Linked DNA regions of Homo sapiens: region 2 is linked to region 1. The links come from fine-mapping of genetic effects on plasma protein levels. A gene starts in region 1. The other region holds a variant in brackets. All regions are shown on one strand. Distances are between the middles of the regions.

Region 1 (11,655 bases):
TATCATATATCTAAAGGCACAAACAAGGCTGGGTTGAAGCTGATTTACAGACCAAGCAAATGTTTTACCTTAACAAAATCAAAGAGGATATTGACCCTCTCCTCAATTGTTCTTTCCAAATCATCACTGAGTGTCAGAACTTTTGCATGGTCACTGATTTCATCCATTCGACGCCTTTGAGCTTCCTCAGTTGTATCTTCTCCCCAGTCATCATCCTCCTCTTCTTCCTGTTTATGAAAACAGAGCTACTTGATCAAAGGCCTTAAAAACAACAACAAAAAGGTTCAGATTTTGCCAAGTTAATGGCATCAAGTCCATCTCCATCCAAAATTGGGTTCACCTTAATTCAAACAACAAACAGTACTTGGAATCCACAATATTAGTGTATTACACACTGAAGGCTAGTTTCAACATTTCCACCCACCTCAACCAAATGCCATATACTTTACACAACTTTAGTGCCCACTAGGCCATCAACCCTGCACTCACCATTGTATGTGGAGGAGGATTAATTTCATTTGGTGGTGGTGGTGGTGGTGGTGTCTCACTGCTGGATACGGAGCCATTTTCCTTGTCTTTGCCCTTTCTGTTTTTCTTTTCTTTTTCTTTCTTTCCTGTACCACTGTCACTATTCTCTACAGAAAAAAAGGGAAATAAAAATTTAACCCCATAACTTACATTACCTCATTGCCCATCATTAACGTTTAAAACCCTGCCCTTATTTTCCTATGGATCCCCTCAGAAAAACCACACAGCACACACAATGCTACCTAAGAGGCTTCACAGATCAAATTCATCATGTATTTCATACGTAAGAATGTTAGTCTAAGAATGGAGTGACACAAAATATTAGGGGTATTGTAACTGCTAAGAAAGAGTAAGATGAAGTGATGATGCCTCCACTAGGGAGAGGTGGCCCTAAGGATCCCTGTCATCCCTCATGAACAAAGTCATTAACTCAACCCAGCTTTAGCCAACAGGTGGAACACTGTTTAAGTCTATATAACGGCTTGTCTCATGGGAGAGAGAACACCGGAATAGGTTAGACTTTCTTGCTATAGCAAGCTCAAATTGTGTCAGACAGTTTTGATCATCTGCCACAGAGTGTTGCTTGCAATATTCAAGTTTAATGAAGGGGGCCCTCTTTACCAAACAATGCCAGTAAAAGAAACTTTGCTGGGTTTCCAGCAGAATTTTAGTCATTACTTCATCTACCCTCAGATAATGTCTTAATTGATATGGCACAGTTTAATTGGCAGCCTATTTTTCACCTTTAATGGTAATTAACAATACACTTTTGAAAGATGTCTTAGATTTGATAAAATATAGTACAAGGACTAAAAGGTTCCTTATATTGTTTTTTTGAGACAGAGTCGCTGTTGCCCAAGCTGGAGTGCAGTGGCACGATCTCAGCTCAGTGCAACCTCTGCCTCCAAGGTTCAAGCGACGCTCATGCCTCAGCTACCGGAGTAGCTGGGATTACAGGAGCACACCACCATGCTAAGCTAGTTTTTGTGTTTTTAGTAGACGGGTTTCACTATGTTGGCCAGGCTGGTCTTGAACTCCTGGCCTCAAGTGATGTGCCCGCCCTGGCCTCCCAAAATGCGGGGAATACAAGCATGAGCCACCGTGCCCAGTCTCCCTTACATTCCTATTACAAAAAAACCTTCTATTTTGTTCCCAACAGTTAGTAACTTATCTTAGGATCTTAGGAGTTCATCATGGAAGACTCACCAGGTGGGTTTTTGAGAATGAATGTGCAGAGTTTATGATGTGTGTCAAGCATGCCTCGATAGCCACAGGCTTTACAAGAATTACCTATTGTTTGCTTCTTTGGATTGACATGCTGCCAAAAAAATAACAAATGTTATCCATAATATAACATGAAAATATCTAATCAGAGGACATCTAAACCACAGACAGCTTCACATGCAAAGAAAACTTTTTTCACACAGTGACCTACTTTAAAAAAAAGAATGGAAATATCTCGAAAACTGGAGTTTTGTGTTTGATTTAAAATTACATTTGCTCTGCCTTCTCAGGAAGGTGACTTAGCGGTATCACAGAAGCAGGTATATGGCTTTTTCTTTCGACAACCACAAAAGCACTTACCAAATCTGTTTCAGGATTCTCACATTCAGGACAGAGAACAAATTTTTTAATGAATCCATCCAACATGTCTTGCAGCTTATTCGCCTCATGAGATCCATTGACAATGTAACGGTCATTCTTAACATCAAACTGGGTCTGTGCTCCCAGCTCACAACCAAAATATTTGGTGGGATCTATTTGAATGAAAAAGGAGTTTGGATCGTTACAGTTAACTAGATCTCTGGCTACTCACTCACATTTGTACGAACACCACTTTTTTTTTTTTTTTGAGACAAGAGTCTCACTCTGTCACCCAGGCTGGAGTGCAACGGCGTGGTCTCAGCTCACTGCAACCTCCGTTTCCGGGGTTCAAGCGATTCTCCCCCTTCAGCCTCCCAAGTAGCTGGGACTACAAGCGCATGCCACCACGCCTGGCTAATTTTTGTATTAGTAGTAGACTCAGGATTTCACTATGTTGGCTAGGCTGGTCTAGAACTCCTGACCTCGCGATCCGCTTGCCTCAGCCTTCCAAAGTGCTGGGGGTTACAGGTGTGAGCCAACGCGCCCAGCCATCCACTCTTTAAATGCGTTCCCCTGGTAGTTTTGTAAACTCATGGCAACCAATAAACCACGGTTCCTCACTTAACTTGTAAGGTAATTAGCTAGCATACAATTAGAACAAGTTTTGCAGCTCAAAGACTTTGAAGACTCTATCCATAATATGCCCTGTGGACTTTTCCAAGCTTTACTTACACGTTGGAGGCCGATTAAGCGCCTTTGCAACGTCAACCATGTTGACTATAACTGTCTTGATTCCATTGCCTTTGCCCTCAACCTAAAGGAAATAAGAATTTTAGTTGTGCAGTTTCCCCTGACAAATGCAAACTTCAAAATTCTACAAAAAGAGCTATCAACTAAATTGAAGAGCAGTTTATTACCTTGGCAATCAGACGGGGCATCTTGTAGCGATAGAACTGGTCTGACACGCTGCGGTTGACATTGACAGACATTTTGGCTTATTAGTGGCTTTATCAATAAGATGAAGAGATCTTTGATTGCAACTTTTTGGTATCTTCTGTCTGGAGAAGAAGGGATGACATAAACGACTGCAAGAGTTCTCGGTCTCTGACATGAAAAAATTTTCGCCACTGAGGCTGTAAGCTTCTTGCTTGTATGCTATGTTTCCCCAATACAGGTACCAATGGCTGCGCAACAGCTCTGAAAGAAAAAGGGAAAGAACACACAAAAATCCCCCCAGGTTTAACATCATCGCTGGATGGAAACGCCTCCTTTTTACATCCTAGTTATGCTTCTGCTTAACTCCACCTTAAAAAGCATCTGAGATCACATGCAAACAGCCATTCTCATGTAACACAGTACAATCTGCGGGAACATAAAAAGGCCTCCATTTCGACTAAGCTGTGACTGGTAGGGAAATGCCTGACAAGAAAACACAAGCTGTGCTGCCTCAGCCGCCGTGAGATTCCATCAGACCGAGGGCAATCAGCAGGTTTGCCTCTGCGGCCATCCTGGAAGTGCTGAAGAACGAACCCGAGCCCTCTCCGCCGCCCACCCCGCCTGGATAAGCAAACTTCTCAGGCACACCCCCGTTCGTCTTCATTTTTAAGGGCAACCTAGGGAACTGTTCTCTACAACTAATCGTTGCTTCGGCAACCATGGCTTACTTCAAAGCAGCACTTCCTTAAACGCAGCGCTCGCCCACAATTTGCCATTAAGCAAGAGAGCGCGAGCGAACGCCAGGCTCGCCCCGGCCTCCCTTTTCCTCGCTATTCAAATACTCGGTTAACCTTCGCCCTGGTCCCCATGGCTACCGCGCTCCGAGGCGTTTCCGCGGGGGCTGGCGAACCGGGCAGCTCCGCGAAGGAGGGGGGCGCGCGACCGGGGCGTCTGGCCCCATCCCCAGCGCGTCCCCCGAGAGCCGGCGGCCCCGGAGGGTGCACAGCCGGGAAGCGACACACGGCCGAGGGGTGCCGGGATCGGGCCGCCCCCGCCCCAGAGCGCGCGATGACTCACAAATGCAGCAGCTGAAGCCTGAGTCAGCCCGAGCGGCGGGCACGCGCGACGCGCTCCCGCCATGCCGGGGAGGGGGCGAGGCCGGGCCGGGGAGCGCGCGGGGAGGGGGCGGCCGGCGCCCGGGCCCGCGCCCGCCCGCCGTCCGCCCAAACTGCGCCACACGCCGCGGCGGGGTCACGCGGCGGCCGCCGCCATCTTGTGCGGCCGCCATCTCCTGGCCCGCCGCGCCCGCGACTCACCGTTTTCGTCAAATAAAGACATAAACCCAACGCTGCTCGCCCGGGACTGGGATGAAGTGAGGCGCGATATAAACCCGAGTCCGAGTCCGAGGAGGCGGAGGCGAAGCGCAGCGAGGAGCGGCCGGGCCAGGTGCCGCCGCCGAGCAGCGGGGAGGGGCTGTCCCAGCGACGTCCGCGGTCCACACCCGTCAGCGCCGGAGCTGGGCGACCTGGCGCGGAGAGACGGCGCCGTGAGCCGTGGGCGGTCGGGGAGTGCACCTTCCCCGCCAGCCAGCGGCCCGAGGGGTCGAGGGGGCGGGAAGCACCGGGCAGGGGGCCGCCCCTTCACCGGACTCACCTCTGGAATGTTCTCGCTCTGACTGAACAACGCCGCCGCCGCGCTCAAGCTACCCTCGGCCCCAGCGTCCGCCCCCCGCGTCAGGCCTCACTGCCCATTGGCTGGAGGCCTGCCACAGCTCGCTCGTCATTGGTTCGCTTGCGACGTCAATCGCATCTTTCCGCGCCCCTTCTGCTTCCTGAGGCTCAACTCGCGGCCTCGGCCCGCCTCCAGCCCCGGTCTCGCTTCCTTCCTCTCCCCTCCCCCCGCCTTTCCCAGAGGTCTTCGCGGCGCAGCCCTTGGGTCTCGCGAGACCCGGAGTGGCCCTGGTGGCGGGGCCGGGGTACCGGGGGCCGTTCTTTGTCGGTTTGGGCCTTGAGGGGGAGATGGTGGTTGGTCCCCTCCCTCGCCGGGTCTGGGACAGGCCGCGGCGTCATGGCGACTCCCGGGACGCAGGAGCCATCGTCCTCGAAACTGCTTTCGAGGCCGTGTTTTTGCGGCTGCCACCTTCGGGGAGAGGAACCCGACCGCGTTCTCCCCGCAGCGGGCGCTCATCTCCCTTTCCCGTTCTCCCGGGACGCCCGACTCCGGGCCTCGAGGAATGAGTTGTTTTTCCACCTTAAGCCCCAGGCCTGGGTCTTTCATCCCAGGGACGTCTTCTGTTTCGGACTCGGGGTGGATTGGCCGCTGGCGGAACGAGTCCGTGACTCGCCAGTGACCGCCCAGGGCGGTCGCGAGGCCGCGCCGCCTCGGTGTCGGCCCGCAACCCAGCCTGCGCGCTTAGCTCAGCGCGTCGCCTCCCGTTTTCGGAAGAGGAGGCCCTTAATTGGTTTGGAATCCTGGGGCCTCCTGAAGGCGCTTCGTGGTGGGTTCCCACCTTCTGGTGAAGGCCTCCCTGCTCTCCCAGGGTTGAAAAGCGCTATCCTTCGTGCTTCTCTTGTCACCTTTCTCCTAGTGGGCATCACGTCGAGTCCACCCCCTCTAGTTTATGACTTGTGAATTCTTTGATAAGCAAATCGTAGCCCAGAGCAGGCATTTATAATGAGATTCCAATGTATTCCGTTGAAAATTACTATTATTTAGGCCGGTCGCGGTGGCTCACGTCTGTAATCCCAGCACTTTGGGAGGCTGAGGTGGGCGGATCACCTGAGGTCGGGAATTTGAGACCAGCCTGGCCAATATGGTGGAACCCTGTCTCTACTAAAAATACAAAAAATTAGCTGGGCGTGGTGGCTCGCTTGTAATCCCAGCTACTCGGGAGGCTGAGGCAGGAGAATCCTTGAACCCGGGAGGCACAGGTTACAGTGAGCCGAGATCACACCACTGCACTCCAGCCTGGACAACAGAGCGAGACTGTCTCCAAAAAAAAAAAAAAAGAAAATTTTTATTATTTAGAGAGAGGCTCTCATATTTTAGTTCTGTTGAAACTCTCCCATTCTTTCTGAAACTTGGATTTTTTTTGTGAAAACTTGAGTCTTAAAAACACATCCATAGTTCACCCTGAAGTTTGAAGACCTCACTTGACTGATGGAGCGAGAGCCCCGCTAACCTGCACTCTGGTCTCTAAGGTGCAGTCATCGAGAAGTCCTGAGCGGCCGTGCAGGTTTCCCGATCTGGAAAAGAGAAATGTTGCTGAGGACAGGATGAGGTAGATAAGGGGCTGCCCTTTGTTTTGGACCAGTTGCATTTGCACTGAGGTTAGAATTGGCAGCTATGTTGATTTTTATATCAAAATCCAAGATCGTGCTTCCATAACTAAAAGCTTTATAAACAACTTAAAAATTGGCAGTGTTGGTAGGAAGAAATAAAGGCACAATCCAGAATTGAGAGGTGATTTGTGTCCTTTAGGGCAGGGACTTTTATAATCCCGCAGTGTGTACCTTGGTGTATAGTTGTTAAGCCAAGTGCACAGTGCCTTGTGAGTACCAGGGTTCCCATCAGACAAACTAGAAAAGGGGATCCCAGACATGCTGCTGCTGTTTCACTGTGGAGCATGACTTAGCAGTATTGAAACAGATCTGACTTTTTGCTTGGCAGCACAAAAATGATGTTATTTTAGAAACTCTGTTGGAAAGTATAGGCATGAAACTAGTCTGAGGTGAGAGGCCTGCCTTTTCAGAAAAGTTTTAATGAAACACGAAGTAATTAGCTTTTTTGTATGTTTAGTGGCACAATTTTTAATTTCGTTGAAGTTTGTAATAATTTTAACTGCTTTTTAATATGTGTACCACTCATTTGTATGCAACCATGGACAACTTAAAAAAATACTTTTGTGTTCTTTTTCTCCCTTTTATTTTTAGTTAATACATAATAACACATTTGTGGGATACAAAGTGATATTTCAGTACATGTATACAACGTGTAATGATCAAAGCACAGTAATCAGCATATCCATCACCTCAGATGTTTATCATTTCTTTGTGTTGGGAACATTCAGAATTCTCTCTTCTAGCTTTTTGAAAATATACAATAGATTGTTGTTAAGTATATTTACCTTGAAATACTACAGAGCACTAGAACTTATTGAGCTGCAATTTTGTATCAACCTCTCCCTCTCCTCTCCTCCCACTAGCCTTCCCAGCTTCTAATAAACCACAATTCAAGTCTCTACTTCCATGAACTCGAATTTTTTTTTAGCTCCCACATATGAATGAGAATATGTGGTATTTATCTTTCTGTGCCTGACTTATTTCACTTAATATGATACTGTCCTCCAGTCTCAGCCATGTTGCTTCAGATAAAAGGATTTCATTATTTTTTTATGACTGAATAGTGTTCCAGTATATGTAAAACTTTTTTTTTTTGAGACGGAGTCTCACTGTATCACCCAGGCTGGAGTGCAAGTGGTCTGATCTCAGTTCACTGCAACCTCCGGCTCCCAGGTTCAGGCGATTCTCCTGCCTCAGCCTCCCAAGTGGCTGGGACAACAGGTGCGTGCCATCAAGCCCGGCTAATTTTTTTTTTTTTTTTTTAGTAGAGACAGGGTTTCACTGTATTGGACAGGCTGGTCTGTCTTGAACTCCTGTGTGATCCACCTGCCTTGGCCTCCCAAAGTCCTGGGAGTACAGGCGTGAGCCACCACGCCCAGCCTATAACACATTTTCTTTATCCTTTTTTTTTTTTTTTAAATAATAAGATGGCGCGGGAGGGGTGGGGGGGGGGCTCACTATGTTGCCTAGGCTGGTCTCGAACTCCTGGCCTCAAGCAGTCCTCCCACCTCGGCATCCTGAAGTGCTGGGATTACAGGCATGAGCCACTGCAACCAGCCTGTCCATTCATTTGTTGGTGGACGCTTAAGTTGATTCCATATCTTTTGCTATTGTGACTGGCGCTGCAATAAACATGGGGGTGCAGATATCTCTTTGATAATATTGATTTGATTTCCTTTGGATAAATACCTAGTAGTGGGATTGCTGGATCATATGGAAGATCTATTTTTAGTTTTTTGAGAAACCTCCATGCTGTTTTCCCTAATGGCTGTACTAATTTACCTTCCCACCCACAGTGCATCAGAGTTCCCTTTTCTCTGCACCCTTGCCAGCATTTGCTATTTTTTGTCTTTGTGGTTTTGATTTGCGTTTCCCTGTTGATTAGTGACATTGAGCATTTTTTCATACATGTGTTGGCCACTTGTATGTCTTTCTTGGAGAAATATCTATTGAGATCGTTTGTCTATTTAAAAATCAGATTTATTTATTTTTTGTCACTGAGTTGTTTGAGTTCCTTGTTTATTCTGGATATTGGCACCTAAAAATTACTCTTAATCATACCATTTGTTAAATGCTTATCATATCCTAGGAGTTTTCTAAGTTCTTGGAATACATTATCTTATTTCCCAGGCCCTATGAGGAATTCGTATTTCCATTTTACAAATGAGCGAACCAAGGCTTAGTGGAAAAAAATTAAGCAACTTACCCAAATCATGTACCTAGTAAGTGGCAGAGCTAGGATTTAAAGACAGCTCTGTCTGATCCCAAAGCCTGTTCCCTTAAAAATTATGTGGCATGGCCTCTCCAGATAAATACAAAAACAAACAAAACTAGGCATTTTACATATGTAATCCCATTCTTTAATAATCATGTAAGGAGATGTTGTTATACCCATTTTACAGGTGAGGAAAGAGACTCAGGAAGGTTAAGCAATTTTCCCCAAAGTCGCCTCCCTAATAAATGATGGACAGCGTTTGAACTCCAGCTTGTGTGACGCCAAGCTCATTGCACAATTCCACTTCCCGTTTCTGGATCTCCACCTCATTTGGCTGCATTATTTTCCCCAGTCAGGTGCTCACAGTCCGTGCACTAATGGACACTTGGTGCTTGTCAAAACCTTGCTGAATGAGTGCATGAATTGCACACCTCAGTGCATGCCCTGATGACAGGAATAGCTGCTGGAAAGGTAGATTGGTAAACTGGCCTTCTGGTTGTTTACACATTGGCTGTGACTCTGTTGAATGTGAATGAGTGTCCCCTCCCTCCCACCCCCCACCAAGATCAACTCTGCATGGACTGAGAGCCTTGTGTTTCTGAGCTGTGAGCTCTCAAATGGACTCAGATATTGTACACTGTGAGGGGCAGTGGTCCTCCTCTGTGACACCCACCTCTCAACTTTTTTTTTTTCTTTTTTTTTTGAGATGGAGTCTCGCTCCGTTGCCAGGCTGGAATGCAATGGCACGATCTCAGCTCTTGCAACCTCTGCCTCCTGGGTTCAAGTGATTCGCCTGCCTCAGCCTCCTCAGTAGCTGGGATTACAGGCACCTGCTACCATGCCCGGCTAGTTTTGTATTTTTAGTAAGAGACGGGGTTTCTCCATGTTGGTCATGCTGGTCTCGAACTCCCAGCCTCAGGTGATCCGCCCATCTCGGCCTCCCAAAGTGCTGGGATTACAGGTGTGAGCCACCGTGCCCAACCTCTCAACTTTTAAAGCTGCACACTGTTAACTGAAGTTCTTGTCCCCCCTACTTCAGGACAAGCTACAGGGTATATGCATAATTTTTCTTCTAGCACCAGCCAGTCACAGGGGTGTTCATAGAGCAGACATTTGAAGCTGCTGGAAGGGAACTGAAGGTTATCTGGTGAGTACAGAGGCATCGGCTGACGTGAGGGCTGGTGTCCTAAACCATGGTAATCTAGTGCATCCCTATCAATACATAATTCTGTGCTAGGCAGTGAGGGTGCAGGCCCGCCTACATCACAGACCCTGCCCAGGAGGTCACATGTAAACAAGTAGAGGCAAATATCTGCTTGCTGGACACCCCACTGAAGCTTGCCCTTCGTGAAATCTCTGATGCTCTGAACAGCATGTCTCCCTGCCTTCGTGACCTGCCCATCCCATGGCTAGGCTGCACCTACGCCACACCACTGGCATTCATGTCACTTGATTGCAGTTGCCTGTTTCCTTCTCTGACTTCCTTACTGGGCCAAGCAACTGGAGGGCAGGGGACTCATGCTTGAGAAGAAAGGATTCTGGACTTTGGCTGAGGAACAGGCCTTTAGTTCCAAAAGGGACAGAGGCAGGAAGCAGAGGTGTTTGAGGAAAGATAGGGGTCCAGGTGAGGGATCACTGGAGACTGACACAAAGTCTTCCTCCTCCGAAGTGTGGAGCTGTGATCCCACCCAGCAGCCATCCTGCATTGTCCCATTCCTGGAAAAAGAAAAAAACACAAAATGGCATTGATTCTGCCTGCGCAGCGTCCTACGTGTAGCAGATGACAGAGAAATGTGGATGGATCAGAGCAGGCCCTACAATATTGGATTGGTGTTGTCTTGGTCACATTGAAGACACACACAGCACCCCAGTGACAAATTCTCAGGGGTTGCAGGAGCTGCTGATCCCAGGACTGTCCTGTGCCTTAAAACTGGGGGACGCCCATGATGTTGGAACCCAAATACCCTTCTTCCCGTCAGCATAGTCTCAGCAGCTTTCTTTTGAGATATTCGAGCTGCCCTAATTTAGATAGTCTGTGGATAAGAAGAACAAAATCTCTGCCCCAATGGGTGTGTTGGAGAAGTGGTCCCCGGGTCTAATGGCGACGTGATGGGAGTGGCATTAGACTGATCATGGCTGTTAGAATTAGGAAGGTGCCAATGGCCTTGCCGTGCTGACAAAGCCTCGTCACCCATGCTCTCTCACTGTCCTCCTCACACCTTGGGAGGTGGCAAGTATACATTTTATTCCTTCATTTTATGGACGAGGAAGCCGAGACTCAGAGAGATGATTTGCCTCCAGTTGGGGGGTCAGGTGTCCTGATTCCCAGCTTCAGAGCTCTTCCCCCTGACTAGGGACTAATAGTCCTGTGTGGTGCATCTGGGTCCCAGGGATTTGCCTCTCTTCCCTCAGCTGGATTTCCTTTACTCCAGTGCTTTTGAAAGTTTCACATGAGGGGAGGCAGGATCCAAGTCATAACCCTGATAGCTAACACTATCCCAGAAGATCCACTCAGGTGTGCTGTCTTCAGACCTGTGAGGATGCGTTTTCCTTTATGCTACAGATTTTCATTAGCCACTGCATATCCTGCCCGGGGGGCGCCAGACACTGGAGATGCAAATGGACCCCAGAGTGGGGACTTCTTTTGTAAGACAGCATTGAAAAATATGAAAGATTTTAGGCCGGGCATTGTGGCTCACACCTGTAATTGCAGCACTTTGGGAGGCTAAGGTGGGTGGAGGTCAGGAGATTGAGACCTTCCTGGCTAACACGGTGAAACGCCATCTCTACTAAAAATACAAAAAATTAGCCGGGCGTGGTGGCGGGTGCCTGTAATCCCAGCTACTCGGGAGGCTGAGGCAGGAGAATCGCTTGAATCCGGGAGGCTGAGCTTGCAGTGAGCCAAGATCGTGCCATTGCACTATAGCCTGGGCGCCAGTGTGAGACTCCGTCTCAAAAAAAGAAAAGAAAAACATGGAAGATTTCACCTAAAAATTCAGATTTCTGGTTCCTTGGACAGTCGGAAGCCCTTGTACTCTGGGACATACCGAC
Region 2 (11,655 bases), 14 kb before region 1:
TCGGTCTCCCAAAGTGTCGGGATTACAGGCATGAGCCACCGCACCCGGCTGAATTATGGATTCTCATATCCATATTCAGTCCTTCAACAGGAAGAACTAGCAACACAACGTTTTGTGACAAGAAATGGGATACATTTTGTTAAAAGGATGCATGATAATATTTCTTCATCTTTTACGATGTTTGTGTACATACTTTACTTGATACATTCAGTAAGTGGATGATAAAGTTGGATACACGGGGGTGATTGGAAGGAAATAGATGATGAAGAAATGAAAACAATTCATTGGATTGACCATTTAATTGGGGTTTATAAATCTAACCATGACAATATTTCACAATTATGGAACAAAGAAGATGGCCATCCTCTCAACAAAATTATGAGTGTCAAAGTTTTCAAAAGTATTGGGTTTCACAGATTCAAAGAGAAGAGTGAGAAGTCATGATAAGCTAAAACCTACTAAAGATGTAGTTGAAATCTGGAAGCAGTTTTTACAAGATGGATATGTTCTAGATTCAACATACAAGACAGGGCATGAGCAGTAAGTGGAAAGCAAAGGACATTGCCTAGTCTTTTTTTTTTTTTTTTTTTTTTTTAACAGAGACAGGGTCTTGCTATGTTGCCTGGGCTGGTCTTGAACTCCTGGGATCAAGCAATCCTTCCACCTTGTCCTCCCAAAGTGCTGGGATTACAGATGTGAGTCATTGTATTCAGTCCATTCTTGGTATATATACTTTCTTTTTTGAGACAGAGTTTTGCTCTTGTTGCCTAGGCTACAGTGCAGTGGCGCGATCTTGACTCACTGCAACCTCCGCCTCCCGGGTTCAAGCAATTCTCCTGCCTCAGCCTCCCAAGTAGCTGGGATTACAGGTGCCCACCACCACACCCGGCTAATTTTTATTTTTAGTAGAGATGGGGTTTCACTGTGTTGGCCAGGCTGGTCTCAAACTCCTGACCTCAGATGATCCACCTGCCTTGGCCTCCCAAAGTGCTGGGATTATAGGTGTGAGCCACCACTCCTGGCCTCTTTCTTTTTTTTCTTTTTCTTTCTTTCTTTTTTTCTTTCTTTTTCTTTCTCTTTCTTTTCTCTTTTCTTTTTTTTCTTTCCTCTTCTCTTTTCTTCCCTCCCTCCCTCCCTTCCTTCCTTACTTCCTTCCCTCCTTCCTTCCTTCTTTCCTTCTTTCTTTCCTTTCTTTCTTTTTGACAGAATTTCACTCTTGTCACCCAGGGTGGAATGCAATGGCACAATCTCGGCTCACCACAAACTGCCTCCCGGGTTCAAGCGATTCTCCTGCCTCAGCCTCCCAAGTAGCTGGGATTATAGGCGCCCGCCACCACACCCGGCTAATTTTTGTATTTTTAGTAGAGGCAGGGTTTCACCACGTTGGCCAGGCTGGTCTCTAACTCCTGACCTCAGATGATCCGCCCGCCTCAGCCTCCCAAAGTCCTGGGATTACAGGCGTGAGCCACTGCACCCAGCCACCTCTTTCTTTTTTTTAAGACAGCGTTTCATTCTGTCACCCAGGCTGGAGTGCAGTGGCTCGATCTCAGCTGAGAACCTGTGCCTCTTCAGCTCAAGTGATCCTCTCATCTCAGCCCCCCAAGTATCTGGGACTACAGGAATGCACCATCATGCCCAGCTATTTTTTTTGTTTTGTTTTGTTTTGTTTTATTTGTAGAGATGGGGTTTTGCCATGTTGCCCAGGCTGGCCTCGAACTCCTGACCTCAAGGGATCCACCCACCTCGGCCTCCAAAGTGCTGGGATACAGGTGTGAGCCACCGTGCCCAGCCCTTTCTTGGTATATATACTTTCAAAACAGGAAAATTTGGGATTGAAATTTGGGTTTCCTACACTTACATTCTTATTATAATTTCTAATAAGGTTGTTTGTTATGATCCCTTTATTCTTCTGTAAATTATTATGAGGCTACTTAAAATATAAATAAAATTAAAAGGGTCCTTTGGACCCGAGGTAAATTATTATATAATTCTTTTTTCCAGTATACTAAAGGTTAACCCAGTATTGTTTGTAATAGCAAAAGACTGGAAACTTCTCAAAGGTCCATCAATAGGGCACTGGTTAAATAAATAAATATTGCTACCTTCTAGCAATGGAATATTATTTTGCTATAAAAACTGATTAGGAAAATATACATGTACTACTATGGAATAATTTCCAAAATATAAAGCGAAAGAAACAGGGTTCAGAACAGGATGTAAAACATGCAATCGTTTGTGTTATAAAAAAGGAGAAAAAGTATGATTTTGCTTGAATATGCATAAACTATTTCTGATAACATTGACTCTTTTCTGTAGAGGGTATCTGGGCGGCTAGCCACAGGCATGACAAAGAAATGTTTCAGCAAAAATCCCTTTTACTTACTGACATAGACTGACATAGACTAACATAGACTGGCATAGACTGACATGGACTGACATAGACTAACATAGACTGACATAGACTGACAGACTGGCGTAGACTGACGTAGACTGACATGGACTGACGTAGACTGACATGGACTGATGTAGACTGACGTAGACTGACGTGGACTGACGTAGACTGTTGTAGACTGACATGGACTGATGTAGACTGAAATGCACTGACATAGACTGACATAGACTGATGTAGATTGACGTGGACTGACATAGACTGACGTGGACTGACGTAGACTGACATAGACTGACATGGACTGACATAGACTGATGCAGACTGACGTAGACTGAAAGGAGAACTTAGAAAAGGACACGCTCAGCGTCGGGCACACCTCAGTCAAGGAGGCTCTGCTGACCACACTGTCCCTGTCTCAGTGACTTCCTACAACAAAGGTGATTTCTCACTGATGTTCCAGCTCCCTTGAGGGTCCACTGGGCGCTCTGCTCCACCCATTCTGGGACCCATGCTGACACCACAGCTGCCATCTTGAGAGACACTGGTTGCCATGGCCACTCTGAGAATCTTAGACATGTAATGAAATACATAATTTCATATTTTATATATTTTAATTGAAATATCTGTATATACAATATATATCTTGTATATCTATTTTATCTATTTTTTTTTTGAGACAGGGTCTTACTCTGTCCCCCAGGCTCAAGTGCAGTGGCATGATCATGGTTCACTGTAGCCTCAACTTCCCAGGCTTAAGCGAGTTCCCCATCTCAGCCTCCTGAGTAGCTATGACTACAGACATGTGCCACCACATACTGCTAGTTTTTTGTACTTTGTTTTATTTTTTGAGACAGAGTTTTGCTCTTGTCGCCCAGACTGGAGTGCAATGGCCGATCTCGGCTCACTGTAACCTCTGTCTCCTGGGTTCAAGCGATTCTCCTGCCTCAGCCTCCCGAGTAGCTGGGATTACAGATGCCTGCCACCACACCTAGCTAATGTTTGTATTTTTAGTACAGACAGGATTTCACCATGTTGGCCAGGCTGGTCTCGAACTCCTGACCTCAGGTGATCCAGCCACCTGGGCCTCCCAAAGTGCGGGATTACAGACATAAGCCACCGTGCCCGGCCTAAGGTAAAATTTACATGCAATGAAATGAACAAATTTGGGACAAATGCATATACCCATACACCTATGTAACCCAAACTTCTATCAAGATATAAAACATTGCTGTCACCGTGGAAGGTTCCCCTGTGCCCTTTCCCATCAATCCCCACCCCACACCATCCACAGAAGCAATCACTGTCTTGATTTCTTCACCACAGATCAGTGTAGCCTGTTTTAGAACTTCATATAAATGGAACTGTACATACGTATTCTTCTTTGTTAAGGCTTCTTTCATTTAGTACATTTTTGAGATTCATAACTTTTGTTGTGCACATTAGTAATTCATTCCTTTTTATTGTTAATATCCAATTTTGAGCATATGGTACAGTTTGTTTATCCATTCTCCTGTTAATAGGTCCTTGTGATGTTTACAGTTTGGGATTATTATGAAAAAAAGCTGCAATAGCCATTCTCATAAGTGTTTTCAGGAACGCTTGCTTTCATATTTATTTATTTATGTATTTCTTGCATCAAAGTCTCGATCTTTCACCAGGCTGGAGTGCAGTGGCACGACCTCAGCTCACTGCAAGCTCCGCCTCCTGGGTTCAAGTGATTCACCTGCCGCAGCCTCTCGAGTAGCTGGGACTACAGGCGTGTGCCACATGCCCAGCTAATTTTTGTATTTTTAGTAGCGACAGGGTTTCACCATGTTGGCCAGGATGGTCTGGATCTATTGACCTCGTGATCCACCTCCCTCAGCCTCCCAAAGTGCTGAGATTAGAGGCGTGAGCCACAGCGCCTGGCCTCATTTCTATTAAGTGTGGAGTTCTCTAGGAGTGGAATTGTGGGTTTAGAAGGCAGGTGTATGTTCAGTTTTTGTAAGAAATTGTTAGAACTTTTCCTAAAGTGTTGGTATCATATTACATACCAACCCACAGTATGTAAGAGTTCCAGTGGCCCCACTTCCTCACCATCTATTTGGTGTTGTCAAGTTTCAAATTTCAGCTGTTCTGGTGGGTGTGTAGTGGTATTTCACTACGGCTCTTTTGTAAACTTTTGCTTTATATATTTTGAGAGTATTTCATCGGTGCATTCAGTGATAGAACTGTTATTTCTTTTTTTTTTTTTTTGAGACAGAGTCTTGCTCTGTCGCCCTGGCCGGAGTGCAGTGGTGCGATCTCAGCTTACTGCAACCTCTGCTTCCTGGGGTTCAAGCAATTCTCCTGCCTCAGCCTACTGAGTAGCTGGGATTACAGGCACTCACCTCCACGCCTGGCTAATTTTTGTATTTTTTAGTAGTGGCCAGGCTGGTCTCGAACTCCTGACCTCAGGTGACCCACCCGCCTTGGCCTCCCAAAGTGCTTAGATTACAGGCGTGAGCCACCGTGCCCAGTCAGAACTTTTATTTCTGATGTGTTGAATTGTTCATCACATTGTGCTGATCCTCTTTATTCCTAATGACTTTTCTTGGTTTGTCAACAAAATAAACAGAGAGAGGCTCTCTCAAAGAAAAAGGTATCTGCGAACAGGGCATTGCAATGGGAATATGCATGTCATAGTGAGCTATGTGTGTACTTTAGGAAGGTAAAGGGAGAGAATAGCTTTTAAAGGAAAAGTGAGGAGGATTACATAATTGTTTTGAGATAATCAGCCTTGGCCATGAAGGTCAATAACAAGGCCGACGCCGGTCCAAGGTTGGACAGGCAGTTGCTGGGTAGATGTCCTTGTAGAAGTATTATTTGTGGAAGGTTGTGACGGCCTTTGTGCAGGTTGTGGTTTTTGCAGTCTTTTGTGATCGTTGACAGTCGTGATAGGACAAACAAGCATGAGAATGCTCTCTTCACAGCCTCACCTGGCTCTATTTCTCAGGGTTTTTTTTTGTTTGGTGTTTGCCTTTTAAAATACAAATGACTCCATTCTCATTCTGACAGCCTTCACGTTTCCGCCTCTGGTCAGCATCTCTCTCTGAAAGCATCGCTGGTCAGTCATCCTGTGGCTGGGTCTTGATTGTCCCTTGATACCAGGGTGGATCTGTCCTGGCTGCCAGTCTTGTCCCACACTGCAGGGAGTGATTGGGGACTAGGAGCCAGTGTCAAAACCTTCTAGCCACCTGTGAACAACGAGGGAGGTTCGAAGGGAGTGGCTGTCAGCTAAGTCTACTTAGAGTCCATTATTGAGTTCAATTTTGTCTGTTCCATAGTTTTTTTGCAATCATTTCAAAGCGCCAGGCCAGCATTATTCTGTTAGGAGTTGTACTTCTGTAAAATTTCTTTTTTTGAGACAGGGTCTTGCTCTGACACCCAGGCTGGACTGCGGTGGTACGATCATAGCTCTCTGCAACCTTGAACTCTTGGGCTCAAGGGATCCTCCTACCTTAGCCTCTTGAGTAGCTGGGACTACAGGTGCAGGCCACTGTGCCTGGCTAAATTTTTCAGTTTTTTTTGTAGAGACAGGGTATCACTTTGTTGCCCAGGCTGGTCTCAAACTCCTGGTCTCAAGTGATCCTCCTACCTCAGCCTCCCAAAGTGTTGGGATTACAGGCGTGAGCCACTGTGCCCGACCAGAATATCTTTTTTATCCTGTGAGAGAATGTCAGGAGTTTGGATTGGTGTTTTAGATGGTGGCAACTGCCCTAGTGGCTTTTAATTAGACATCCTGAGCCCACTATTTAAAACGTGGAAGGTGTTTAGAAAAAAACCCAGGGAAACGAGTGAAACCAAATCACAGGACACCAAGAGATGAGTGTTCACAAAATTTTAACCCAGGCATGCAGATCAAATTACACGCTCAGACCAAAAGTGAATTCACCAGAAATGACATGCCTCACAGATAGAATGTGAATTCAATAGAAACCAGAATACTCAAGCTAGAGACCTCTGTCTTTATACCAGAAAGGACTTACCAGAAAAGTCAGTCTTTTATCATCTCAGGAGGGATGTAAGGTTCTTTATTAAGGTGGCCTTATAACCAAACCTGATCTTGAATATCAAAAAGCCTCTACCAAAAAAAAAAAAAAAAGAAAAGAAAAAAAAATAGGCCAGGCACAGTGGCTCACGCCTGTAATCCCACCACTTTGGGAGGCCAAGGCGGGCAGATCACGAGGTCAGGAGATCGAGACCATCCTGGCTAACATGGTGAAACCCCGTGTCTACTAAAAATACAAAAAATTAGCCGG[A/G]TGTGGCAGCGTGCGCCTGTCGTCCCAGCTACTCTGGAGGCTGAGGCAGGAGAACGGGGTGAATCCAGGAGACGGAGCTTGCAGTGAGCCGGGATTGCGCCACTGCACTCCAGCCTGGGCTACAGAGCAAGACTCCGTCTCAAAAAAAAAAAAAAGGAAAAAAAGAAAAAAGAAAAGAAAAACAAAGCCTCCACCAAAAACAGGGAGGGCTGGCCTGAGAGAAGACTCACCAGGGACAAAAATTTGAGCCATGGAAGCCTACAGCGCAAAGGGCTCATGCATACTGGCCAAAAAAGAGTATTTTTTTCTGATAGTCATCTTTCTTTAGGTCCCATTTCTGACCCCATTTATGTCAATTAAATGAGAGAGACGAGCTCTCTAAAAGAAAGATATGTATTCAGGAATAGGGCATTGCAATGGGAATACACGTCATTGTGAGCTGTGTGTGTACTTTAGGGAGGTAAAGGGAGAGAATTTTTTTTTTTTTTTTGAGATGGAGTCTCACTCTGTCGCCCAGGCTGGAGCACAGTAGCACGATCTCGGCTCACTGCAACATCCACCTCCCAGGTTCAAGCGATTCTCCTGCCTCAGCCGAGTAGCTGGGATTACAGGCATGCACCACCCCACCTGGCTAAGTTTTTGTATTTTTAGTAGAGATGAGGTTTCGCCACATTGGTCAGGCTGGTCTCAAACTCCCAACCTCAGGTGATCCACCCTCCTCGGCCTCCCAAAGTGCTGTTATTACAGGCGTGAGCCACCACGCGTGGCCGAGAATGGTTTTTAAAGGATAAATGAAGATTACATAACTGTTTTGAGATTACCACCTGTGGCTACAAAGATCCATAACAAGGGCGATGCAAGTCCACAGCTGGACAGGCTGTTGCTGGGTAGATGTCCTTGAAGTATTTTTTGCATAAGGCTGTGATGCTTTTTGTGCAAGGCTGTGGTTTTTGCAATCTTTTGTGATAATTTCGTTATTGGGCATACCAGCATGAGACCCTTCACCATCGCAAGACTGCAAACCCTACTCTATTTGTTCGGGTTGTTTTTTTGTTTCTTGAACACAAGTGACTCCGCTTTGATTGACAACTTTCACACTTTATTAAAATCTACTTTTTTCTGAGATTCAAAGAGCTACATTTTTGGTTAGTGTATGTCTACTATACCTTTTTTCATCCTTTCAACATCTTTTGTCACATTTTAGGTGATGCTCTTGTAAACAGTGTATTGCTAGACCTAAAAATCCAAGCTTACAACTTGTCCTTTACCTGATACATTTATTCCATTTACTTTCATTTGGATTTTTAAAAATGTTAACTTAATACGTCTCTTTCAGATGTCCCTGCTTTTTAGTTAATTGTGTTTTCTACTCTCCTAAAGACTTGATTTTTATTTTTTAGTTAACTGACCGTTTTTAAAGAGGTTTTAGGCTCATAGCAAAATTGGGTGGAATTTCCCCTACTGCCCCAGCCAGGCATTGCTTCTGACTGCAGCATTAGGCTTCCAGTGGGATTGAGTGCTGCACATAAGGGTCTCCACCCCCAGCAGATATGGAAAGGCAATCCCCTAGTTTTACAGTAAGGCCTGGGACAGAATCCAAATTTGATCCCAACACCCAAGTGAATCCTCCTCCTCTTAAAAAGAAATAATTGACTGCATAACCGAACTGCAGGGTCAACTCAGATCCTACCATTCACCTGGAGGTCCTGACATTGCACCTCCCAGTCTAGGTCCCAAGAAAAGAACTCTGTAGCTTCTATTCTCATATCCCAGCACACACAAGTCCTTAAAATTTCTGGCCATAAAAACCACAGAAATTTGATTCCCAGAAAAAAACTGTTTGGCTAGACCAGACAGGTGGACATAAACACCCTGAGCTCCCAACCTATTAACAAAGGCTCACAGGGTCACTCTGGTGCACAAACCTACAATGAGACTACCTGCAAGTCATTTGCTGTCACCCCACTTATGGAATGTCACTATGAATCAAGATCTGTACTGGGGACAGAGATGACCAAAGTGACTCCCTGTCCCCTTGGGGTCACACAGCACATGCAACGAAAGTGCAACACTGTTTCTGGTACTAAGACTGCTCTGGCTTTGTAGTAGTCAGGGAGGCTGAAATTTGAACCATCAAAAAGATGATGCAGGAACAAGGTCAACTTTGCATTTGCTGGTTACTCCGGAATACTGGTAGGTCAAGCTGTAGCAATTAAGAAAATAGCTGGTTAGATAAGGATTGTCTGCAGACTTGTCAAATAAATTTAAAATACATGAAGGGTTATTTTGTTAGATAAGTGACCTTGGTACAACAGTACCTATGCCTCAGGACCACGATGAGGACTGACTGAGCTAACAAAATGCAAAAGGTTCAAACTCACTTATCTGCTTTTTGCAGATGGCCAGCTTTCACTTCTGCCATCTCCAGGCCAAAGGCATAAAGTCAGTGCTTGGTACACTGGAACAAACAGCTTGGGGCTCAATTTTGATACCCCTCCCTTCTCAAGCGGGAAGCGGTGGATTAGAGACCTCCTTGCCCATCTCTAAACTTTAGGACCCACACTAAAAATTTTTAAGTCAATTTCAGAATGCACTTGTTTAGAAAGCAAACCTCCCCATTCCCTCATTCTTAACTAGAGATATATACAATTATTCACAGTTACATAGCTGTATGTATGTTCCCTATTAAGCACCTGCCAAGATTTCAAGTAATAAAACTGAGGCAGATGCTCAGTTCACAGACAAGACTAGCAAATAAAGCCAGTGACCCAATGAAATGAACAACTTTTGTGAGTGGGGCTGGCAAGTGTAACTGCAGGATACATCCAACACAAATCCAAAGCAACGGCTACAAAACAGGGCAGATTCCAATGCTTTGATCTCATTATAAAATGAAAACTTGTTAACTTTAATATTAAAGCAAAGACAAAATACAATTTTATCATTATTTTAATCAAGTAACTTAGCTGTTTAAACAAATCCTTAAGACAGTTCAATAGAGCAAAGTGAAGAATTACTCTATTAGGATAACCTGTGAACAAAGTTCAGATTATGTGAATTTGTATTCCATTCGAAGTTTGGCACCAGACTGAACACTGGTTTAAGCCAAATTTTTTAGTGTTCTAGAAGCCCTGAACATGTTTTCCCTCAGATTAAAAGTAGAACCTTTATAATAGAACCTCATTAGCTTGACACTGAGTATGCTGAGTGCAACTTAGCTTAGGTCACCAGTATCTCCTACAGAATTCCAGTTAATGAAAGCAGATCAGCCTTGCGGCAAAGAATTTGAAACCTAGGCAACATACAAGTTTGAAGAAAAAAAAATCCTCTTTGGTGTGACAAAGCACATTCCCTCCAGGTATATGGCTCCTGCTCCACTTGCACCCGAATCTTGATCAAAGGCAGCTGGAGACCAATTCTTGTCTCTCCAATAAGATTGCTAGGTTTCAATTCCTTAAAATATCAAGCCAACCAAGTTTTATTACATCAAATGTTTCTATCATTTCAATGTGAAAATTTTTTTACGCCTATTTGTTATTAAGGTCTCATTATCTGTGAAATAATCACAAAAAAACAGAGGTGAATGGTATAAGCCACTGCTCCAAAATTAACCCTATCGATTCTCGATTCCCACTGTGCACTTTGTGAAAAGGGTAACTGCCAAGAGGTTTAACCTTGAAGATGATTACTCAAACAGTCAGAACCCATAATATGAGTTTAGATCAGGCAAGGAGTTCATGAGGAAGTTATCAACTCTTGTGTGTCCAAATCTAAAGCCCTGCATGGGCTCTGTCAGGTCCTTGTCACCTGCACTCAGGTGGCCATCAGACTTCTTGGGTGCCTGGCTATATTCAATGTGAAGTAAAAAATATCCCAAGTCTTACACCAAAATAGAGGCTCTGACTTAGAAGTATGCTTTTAGCTTTCTTTTTAAATAAGACATTCTGGAAGAAAAAAAAAAGAAAAAGGAAAGAAAATCAAGTTTGAAACACAGTTAACACTTATTTTGGCAAGAAAGCAACCAAAATCTAAAAAGCATAAACTATGTGTCCAAATGTAAAAGGCATTACAGAACAAACTGCAAGAGGGGAAAATTAAAGCCACACTGAACGAAAAAATACAGTATGTCTAACATTTTGGAATTGTAATTTAAACCCTAAGGGCAAAAGCTGAAAAATCATGCTTAGGTTGCTAGTTAAGTGCACCCTTCCTTGTTTCTCCCAAATAAAATCAGTTTATTAATTGCACCCCAAAGCAAGTTCTCTCAGTACAAAGTAACTACTACGTACACACAAAATGCTTGTTAATGTAATAATTTCCCTGGCTCATCCAACGTGCAATGCACACGACTTCAAAGACAATTTGGGGCAAGTGTACATGAAATGAGAAAACAGCTCTCCAAGTTTCAAATCCTGCTCTTACATTATTTATAGGACACTGAGGTCATATTTACTTCTTGGTTAAGATGTTACACTGTCATTTCATTATCAGTCTACCTCACAATGTACATTACCAGATGCCAATTTGAGGAACTACAGAGATAAAACTTTAGTACTTTCTTAATGGGCTGAATAAATTAATTACAATTAAGTTTGCTTTACATCCTGTTGAGGACCTCTTTGCAGCCCCAGGACCTAACAATATCTGGCAGGCTCCAAGAATGCTCATCAGGTGAAATGATGGCAGAACATTTAAAGTAAGGAGCCAGTTACTTCAGCTTAAGTCATTCAGAGCCAAACATCTGAAGAACGACCAAAATCAAACCTTTATTTTTATAACTGTATAAATGTGATCCAAATGTGTCCACCACTAGTTTTTCAAAAAGAAACATGCTATAAATAAGCAAACTACATCTGCTCACTGATGTGTATGGACTCCCTAGATGTCTCATTGGGCTTAATAACAGACCACTCACAGTAATAGATTTTTAGTGTAAAGTGTAGCATGATGTTAAGCCATTTTAGCTTTTGCACATACATGTTGCAC

Which allele goes with the higher level. Positions count from the first base shown, and alleles are read on the strand shown. Strength reflects both the effect of a copy and how common the allele is.
In carriers of allele G in region 2, the plasma level of the protein whose gene starts at base 4,725 in region 1 tends to be lower than with A alone (weak association).

The links. PIP is the posterior inclusion probability: the model's chance that the variant is causal. The UK Biobank Pharma Proteomics Project read protein levels with antibody pairs (Olink). The fine-mapping took linkage between variants from a reference panel, not from the people measured, so its PIPs are less certain.
Region 2: its variant is fine-mapped to the plasma level of the EIF5 protein (UK Biobank, PIP above 0.99).

The regions. Positions count from the first base shown.
Region 1 is chr14:103,327,307-103,338,961 of GRCh38, reverse strand. It overlaps EIF5 (eukaryotic translation initiation factor 5), which reads right to left and starts at 4,725. Exons shown (of 12, transcript NM_001969.5): 1 at 4,702-4,725; 2 at 4,365-4,573; 3 at 3,030-3,309; 4 at 2,845-2,926; 5 at 2,113-2,285; 6 at 1,735-1,846; 7 at 490-635; 8 at 69-227. The coding sequence starts at 3,101. It overlaps EIF5-DT (EIF5 divergent transcript), which reads left to right and starts at 4,302. Exons shown (of 1, transcript NR_158216.2): 1 at 4,302-7,290. SNORA28 (small nucleolar RNA, H/ACA box 28) reads right to left here and starts at 1,113; the gene lies at 988-1,113. RefSeq lists silencers at 3,870-4,109, 4,220-4,269, 4,410-4,829 and an enhancer at 5,150-5,269.
Region 2 is chr14:103,341,117-103,352,771 of GRCh38, reverse strand. EIF5 (eukaryotic translation initiation factor 5) reads right to left here. Exons shown (of 12, transcript NM_001969.5): 12 at 7,747-11,655. Among named protein-coding and RNA genes, the nearest start is that of SNORA28, 9.1 kb to the right of the region's middle. The variant A/G (reference allele first, on the strand shown) is at 6,670.